2 linked regions of the Homo sapiens genome follow. The protein of the gene in region 1 purifies or fractionates together with the protein of each later gene. This does not show direct contact. Each region holds a gene or a part of one and is shown in the gene's direction. Other genes may lie near its edges.

Region 1 (4,118 bases):
AGACTAAAGAGGGGAGTCTTGGTTGCCTGAAAACTAATGGGTAAAATCCATTGAAGTGGGTGAATCCAGTGAAAAGACCTGGATTGAGTCCTTGTTGCATCCCTTGCATGTGACCTTGAGCAAAGTCACCATGTCTTTAAGGCTGTTTTCTCACCTATAAAATGGAATAATTGGCCGGCGTGGTGGGTCACACCTGTAATCCCAGCACTTTGGGAGGCTGAGGCAGGCAGATCACCTGAGGTCAGGAGTTTGAGACCAGCCTGGCCAATATGGTGAAACCCCGTCTCTACTAAAAATACAAAAGTTAGCCGGGGGTGGTGGCAGGCCCCTGTAATCCCAGCTACTTGGGAGGCTGACGCAGGAGAATCACTTGAACCCGAGAGGCGGAGGTTGCAGTGAGCTGAGATCGCGCCACTGCACTCCAGCCTGGGTGACAAGAGCGAGATTGTCTCAAAAAAAAAAAAATCATAACGGTAACGTCCTATACCTCAAGGGACTGTGGTAAGAATTAAAAGGGTGAAATCAATGTGTAAACTATGAAGCCCAATAGAAATAAGGTGTTATACAGACAATTGCACTATTGAATCTCCGGAGACAGAGTTGAGTTAAGGAAAAATGCACTTTCGGAAAGCTTTGGCGACTGAACGACCTGAGTTCTCCAACGCCAAGGCTGGAAGTTTGGAGACCTTGAAACAAGTAAATTACCATTAATATCATAATTTTCAGTTTCCTTTTAAGAAATGAGAGTAACACCACTTTCTTCACAGAATCAAGTGAGAGAGAACCTATGCAAAGGAACTTATCACTTGGTAGGTATTTGAAGCTCCCTCTGCCTGAAAACTACTTATTCAAAGACTGCAACAAAAGGTGTTCACAGTGTGGTATCTTTCAAAACATACGCTAAGGCAAGGAACAGATAAGGAAATGGAAGTACATCCAATTGGGATCCAAGCAACCCAAGTGGGAACCAACAGCTAGACTTGGAGATGTCTTAGCTCACTCTTAACCACGTGAGGGTAGGGTATCCAACCAATAAAGACATTCAGAGTTGGAGAGCGGGCGAGTGGAGTGTCCTTTAGACTCCGCGGACTCGACGGGAGGGACCCTGCAATGCTTAATTAGAACCGGTTGCCATGGCGACAGTCTCTAGGCAGCGTGGGCTGAGCTCTCCGTAGGAATAAAGGGTGGGCCGCCGCTGGACCCTGCGCGCGCCCGCCACCAACTTTCCCTCCAGATCCGAGAGGGGCGGCGCGCTCCGCCCCCGGGCCGCGCACGTCGGTGCTCGGCGGCGCGCACGCCTGCGGGAGCCCTCTCCAGGCAACCTAGTGCTGATCGCTCGTGCCGGTGCGGCCGTTAACCGCCCTTGCCGGAGCCCTAGGCTCAAAAGCAGCCCCTTACCCTTCCTGGGCTTCCCCCAACCCCTTTCCCGGTCTGCCCTGGGGCATGAGCAGCGATGGCCGGCTGCATCCCTGAGGAGAAAACTTACCGGCGCTTCCTGGAGCTATTCCTGGGCGAGTTTCGCGGACCGTGCGGCGGCGGCGAGCCGGAGCCGGAACCCGAACCCGAACCCGAACCCGAACCCGAGTCCGAGCCCGAGCCCGAACCTGAACTGGTAGAAGCTGAGGCGGCCGAGGCTTCGGTAGAGGAACCCGGGGAGGAGGCGGCCACGGTAGCCGCGACGGAGGAGGGGGACCAGGAGCAAGACCCGGAGCCCGAGGAGGAGGCGGCGGTTGAGGGTGAGGAGGAGGAGGAGGGCGCGGCGACGGCGGCGGCAGCCCCGGGGCACTCGGCCGTGCCGCCGCCGCCGCCCCAGCTGCCGCCTTTGCCCCCGCTCCCGCGACCGCTGTCAGAGCGCATCACCCGCGAGGAGGTGGAGGGCGAAAGCCTGGACCTGTGCCTGCAGCAGCTCTACAAATAGTTAAGTAGCTGGGCTTGGCTGGTGGTGGGCCCGCGGTCCCCACCGCGCCGGCCTCGGACGCGGCTCCCTCGGCCCCTCAAACTGCTCTCTTTTCTGCTCCTCTCCCCCGCACCCGCGCCTGCCGCCGCTGAAAGCGCCCCCGCTGCTCGGACCCGGGCGGTCGGCTGAGAGCTGCCCACGCCCGCCTCGGCCCCCACGCCCGCCTCGGCCCCCACGCCTCCTACCCGGCCTTGAAGCCGCTCTCCTGAGCCCCGGCGCCCTCCCGCCGGGCCCGGGCCCCTCATCCCCTTTCACCTCGGCCCCCAGCTTCTAGCTCCACTTCACGCAACCTTTCCCTTTCCTGCCTGGAAAGGTCCTTCCTCCCAGGCTTGAGCTCCCTCTTCTTCCCAGATCCCTTCTTTCTCCGGGAGGTTTCCTCCCACCCCAGTCTGTCTTTTCCCGGGCTGAGTGCCTTGTTGTTTGGCGGCAGAGACGCGACTCCTTTCTAGACTGAGCTGCGAGGTGCCTCCTGCGTAACTGCAACAATGATGGTTATACCGGCCCCGTATCCAGATGAGAGAATGGAGTAGATTTTCCGTCAGGTGCTCAGTGTTGAAAGTGAAGGGCTTTTTAGATGTTTTCACACAGGGAAGCCTAGTCTCTTAGTTTAGACATTTGACATTCCATAATTGAGGGAAGTGGGAAGGAATTGAGAGGGAAGGGTAAGCAAAATTTTGCAAGCAAGCCTTCGGGTGAAAGAGCCATAATTCATTAAAGTGGAAAAGTCAGGCTGTTTTGATTAAATTGCAATTAGGTGCAGTATTTTCAGTCCATTAAGTAGATGGGATGGGGTGGGGAGAAAGCAGATGGCTTAGCTACACAGATGAAAGTCTAAAATAGAAAGGTCAAGGCTTTGCCTTTCATCCCAGTTCTGGTTTTTATAGGCCTGAAATAGAAACGGTTTACAATTGCGTTTCTCAATGGAATTGTTCCGAAATAATGACAGAGGAGAATACTAGTAAGTCTCTGAAAACATTGGTAAACCTGGGAAGTCTTTTGCCATTCAGCTGATAGTTGTAATGAAAGGTGTTACTCTGGCCACCCAAAAAGTTTACTACTGCAAGATTCGCTGTAATTAAGTTCAAACTCACTTTTGGGATTTTCTCAAAAGCCTAAAGAAAAGAAGGGCCTGGAAAGTAAACCTGTTTTGTCTTCATCCAAGCTAATAGACACCTGATCAGATCATTCTCCTGTTAAAGCAGCAGTTTATCAATAGGGGAAAATCATTTAACAAATCTTCCATAGAAGTGGACTGTGTTGGTATTTCATAATATAAGCTATCTAAAATTTAATTTTAAAATACTGTTCAATTACAGTATTACCGTCAATTAGCAAGGTAATGATGCTTTTTGAGAAACGTAAAATATAAAATGGCGTGTAATACCACCACCCAGAGATAAACAGTATTAACATTTTAGAGTATATCTGGTCTTTGTGAACTATCATAGACAAGGGCTTCTGAGATGTAATTTTTTACAGTATTTAAAGATAAAGCTCCCTGCTTAAAATAAAATGGAAATGTTTATTAAGGGAATTTATCTTAGCAGCAGACTGGCTCTATCTTGACAGTTAATTCTTACCTTTACAAATGCAGTTTGCAGAATTAAACCAATTCAAACTTTAGAAAGTGTCCAAATAAGGTCATTATTTTAGTACAACCCTGAACATTTGCCATGTAAGAAGGTTTTTTTTTTTTAACTTATTTAAAGATGATGGCAAGAAGATGTGTGTTTTTTCATATAGAAGCGGCCAGGAGCGGTAGCTCACTCCCGTAATCCCAGCTCTTTGGGAGGCCGGGGTGGCAGATCATGAGGTCAGGAGTTCGAGACCAGCCTGACCAACGTGGTGAAACTGCGTCTCTACTAAAAATACAAAAATTAGCTGGGCGTGGTGTCGCGCGCCTGTAATCCCAGATACTCAGGAGGCTGAGGCAGGAGAATCGCTTGAACCCGAGAGGCAGAGGTTGCAGTGAGCTGAGATTGTGCCAGTGCACTCCAGCCTGGGTGACAGAGCAAGACTCCGTCTCAAAAAAAAAAAAAAAGATTAATTTTGATATAGGTATAAACTAGAAAAAACTGAAATGATAAAATGGCCATCTAGTTGAGAACAGAAGTTTGGATTTGAAATAAAACTAGCAAAATTAAAGTTGGAAAATATTTCC
Region 2 (3,591 bases), about 23 Mb from region 1:
TGTGAGGCACACAGAATTCTCTACGTTTGTGAAAACCAGCCTCTGAGGAACTTTATCAGGTAAGCAGTTGGATCTTACGTCTCTAAGTATTATTTAATCTGGGTTTAATTTTTTCTGCTAAGTCACCGTCTTTCTTGAGAATTGAGTGGTAAAATGATCTGTGGTAATGTACTGTGCTCGGAGGAACATGATACAATTATTTTCTCCCCTTGTTTTTTTAGAGAAAACCTGAGTGTGTTCTTTTAATTTTTACAGTGATAGAAATATCTGCCGAGCAGAGACCCGGAAAACTTTCCTAAGAGAAAACTTTGAACACATTCAACACATCGTCATTGACGAAGCTCAGAATTTCCGTACTGAAGATGGGGACTGGTATGGGAAGGCAAAAAGCATCACTCGGAGAGCAAAGGGTGGCCCAGGAATTCTCTGGATCTTTCTGGATTACTTTCAGACCAGCCACTTGGATTGCAGTGGCCTCCCTCCTCTCTCAGACCAATATCCAAGAGAAGAGCTCACCAGAATAGTTCGCAATGCAGATCCAATAGCCAAGTACTTACAAAAAGAAATGCAAGTAATTAGAAGTAATCCTTCATTTAACATCCCCACTGGGTGCCTCGAGGTATTTCCTGAAGCCGAATGGTCCCAGGGTGTTCAGGGAACCTTACGAATTAAGAAATACTTGACTGTGGAGCAAATAATGACCTGTGTGGCAGACACGTGCAGGCGCTTCTTTGATAGGGGCTATTCTCCAAAGGATGTTGCTGTGCTTGTCAGCACCGCAAAAGAAGTGGAGCACTATAAGTATGAGCTCTTGAAAGCAATGAGGAAGAAAAGGGTGGTGCAGCTCAGTGATGCATGTGATATGTTGGGTGATCACATTGTGTTGGACAGTGTTCGGCGATTCTCAGGCCTGGAAAGGAGCATAGTGTTTGGGATCCATCCAAGGACAGCTGACCCAGCTATCTTACCCAATGTTCTGATCTGTCTGGCTTCCAGGGCAAAACAACACCTGTATATTTTTCCGTGGGGTGGCCATTAGGAAGAACTCCAAATCAAAATGCTATGTAAATGTCTATGGGTGACAGTCTGCTGATGGTAGAAACCTTTCTTTTTAGTTCACAAGTCAGAGATTTGGACGGAGCTGACACAAAGAGTTTGGAGCTCCCCCATTTCTGGCTCTCCTTTCAGGGGTTCCTTCCCCAACCCTTTCAGCAGCGGTGGCTGCCCCCCATTCTGACCCCTGACTCTTCCAGCCAGAAAGATGGTGGTTTTCTAAAGGAACTTTAGCTGTCCTGCACAATGCCGATCTGTGTCTTGCATTTTGGGTAAAAGCCATAAAAATAAGAAACTCAGCCTGTGGCCTTTCTTTCTTCCAAGGCTGGGCTTCTTTTTTTAAGTGACTTCATGCAGTTTGTTGCTTTTAAAAATTTGTCCAGAATCGTTTTCTGCAGAAGCATGGTCTGTTAGGAGCTTACTGGCCGTAGCAGAAGCAATTGTTTCCTGAATTCTTGACATTTATCTTTGCTGTATTCATTTAGGGCTTGGGAGAGTCCGAAGATAATTCAGTCACTGTCAGATTAATAATTTTGTCAGGACAAAGAATACCGTTATGATTATTTAATCCTTTAAAATTGTGGTCTCCAGAGCTTGTTCTCAGAATGGCCCAGACCAAGCCTTAATTGTGATAGTGAATATTAATGGTCACTTTAAGGAGAAATTATAGGCCAAGATGAAATGAACATAAACCTGTTTGCCCTGGCTTTCAGTGGAAGATGATATTAGAGACCAAAATCTGGTTCTGAAGGTGTGTATCAGCCCTAAGGTGAACCAGACTTGGGAAAGATTGTCTTTAAAAATCAATGAGTTTATGTTTTAACTTCTCAGCTTAGTTCTATGCATTGCTCTATAACACACCTAGTTAAGTTTTATGTTATTCTTGAACTGTGATTTTTTTTCTATTTACTTTCATGGTTTGGTGGGCCATTGTTATGGACTGAATGTTTGTGTCCCACCCTTCACCCCCAAATTCCCGTGTTGAAGCCCCAACCTGCACTGTGGAGCTGGGGCTGCTAAGGAAGTAATTAAGGTTACATGAAGTCATGGTGGGGCTCTGATCTGCTAAGGTTGGTGTCCTTATAGGGAGAGACCCCAGAGAGCTTGTTCCCTCCCTCCCTGTGCATGCAAACAAGAGGGCATGGGAGCACACAGAGAGATGGCAGCCACCTACAAGCCAAGAGGAGAAGCCTCACAATCAAACTCTCGCTGCTGGCGAGAGTCTTGGACTCTGTCTTGGACTTCCAGCCTCCAGACTGTGAGAAACAAATTTCTGTTGTTTCAGCTTCTCAGTCTCTGGTGTTTTGTTATTGCAGCCTGAGAACACAGCTGTACGATTATTTGTCAAACAGAAAACACTGATACTTAACAATGCTAATGCAATTATTTATTTGCTTTTCAGTCTCTACAAAACGTTCTAAAACACTAATCTAAATATTAACAGTAAAATATTTGCATAACTAATGGAAACTAAGAAATCATATGACCAATATTTCACTTATTGGTAATCTTACTCTACTGATTTCCCCCCAGACTGTGATTTTTGAACTTCCTTGCCTTTCTCCTGTCTTTCTGTGTTTATTCATGGAATTCCAGTTATCTGGGCTTGAAATTGCAGGCTCTCCTAACTTAAGCAAAATCTGACAGATCAGCAAAATGAGATAAATGTTTCTTTTTTCTTTCTGACTGCATTAAATCAGATACAACTCAGCATTAAAAAGCTATCTTTGTAAATGTTGTTACTAATAAATTAGTCTTATAAGATCCCTGGACTTTGGAGTTGTTGCAATGTCTTTGAGAGTAATTCTTTAAAAGTCTAATTTCGACTGGTTGTATCTCTTTATGATTTATTGCCCCACTAACAATATTTGAAACAATATAATATTTTAAAATGTATAAATAATTATGAATTTTTGTTTAGAACAAAGAGGATTACTGATATTTGTTTCCCTATGAATGGCAAAAGGTTTAGCTTACTACTGCATTTCTGTTTTAAATAAAAAGTTGAGAGTTTGTGTCTCATTAAACTGAAAAAAATGGTCTTGTAAAATAAGTGCTTAAATGGGGGAAAAGGAGAAGACTGAGGCCAGTGACTCTGTGAGAGGGCCAAAACGAGCCAGTAAAAGATTAAGCAACATTAACTTTCAATTTTTTTTTTAAGAGACAAGATCTCACTATGTTGCCCAGGTTGGAATGCAGTAGTGCAATCATAGCTCACTATAGCCTCGAACTCCTGGGCTCAAGTGATCCTCCTGCCTCAGCCTCCGAAATTGCTGGGATTATAGGCATGAGCCAGTGCACTAGACTCAGTTGGGTTTGGATGGGTGCCTGCCCATCTCTGCAATCTGCCTCTAGACATCTGGGACCTACTTCACTAAAGATCTGAAAATCTACCCAGCCATTATAAAATGAAACAAAATGTTTTTATATTTTAAATTAACTTTTTATTTTAGAGTAGTTATAGAATTACAGAAAAAGTTACAAAGATAGTACAGAAAGTTCCTGTGTCCCCTTCATTTAGTTTCCTCTTTATTTTAT

What was found. The genes of interacting proteins can lie anywhere in the genome.
Region 2: the proteins of PPM1E (region 1) and SLFN11 purify together in Homo sapiens (affinity purification with mass spectrometry; one large-scale study listed by BioGRID and IntAct). This does not show direct contact.

The regions. Positions count from the first base shown.
Region 1 is NC_000017.11:58,754,545-58,758,662, forward strand, and holds the start of PPM1E (protein phosphatase 1E), read left to right. Parts: upstream 1-1,309; 5' UTR 1,310-1,453; coding exon 1,454-1,917; intron 1,918-4,118. UniProt on the Homo sapiens protein: Protein phosphatase that inactivates multifunctional CaM kinases such as CAMK4 and CAMK2. Dephosphorylates and inactivates PAK. May play a role in the inhibition of actin fiber stress breakdown and in morphological changes driven by TNK2/CDC42.
Region 2 is NC_000017.11:35,349,804-35,353,394, reverse strand, and holds the end of SLFN11 (schlafen family member 11), read left to right. Parts: coding exon 1-59; intron 60-255; coding exon 256-1,039; 3' UTR 1,040-3,090; downstream 3,091-3,591. UniProt on the Homo sapiens protein: Inhibitor of DNA replication that promotes cell death in response to DNA damage. Acts as a guardian of the genome by killing cells with defective replication.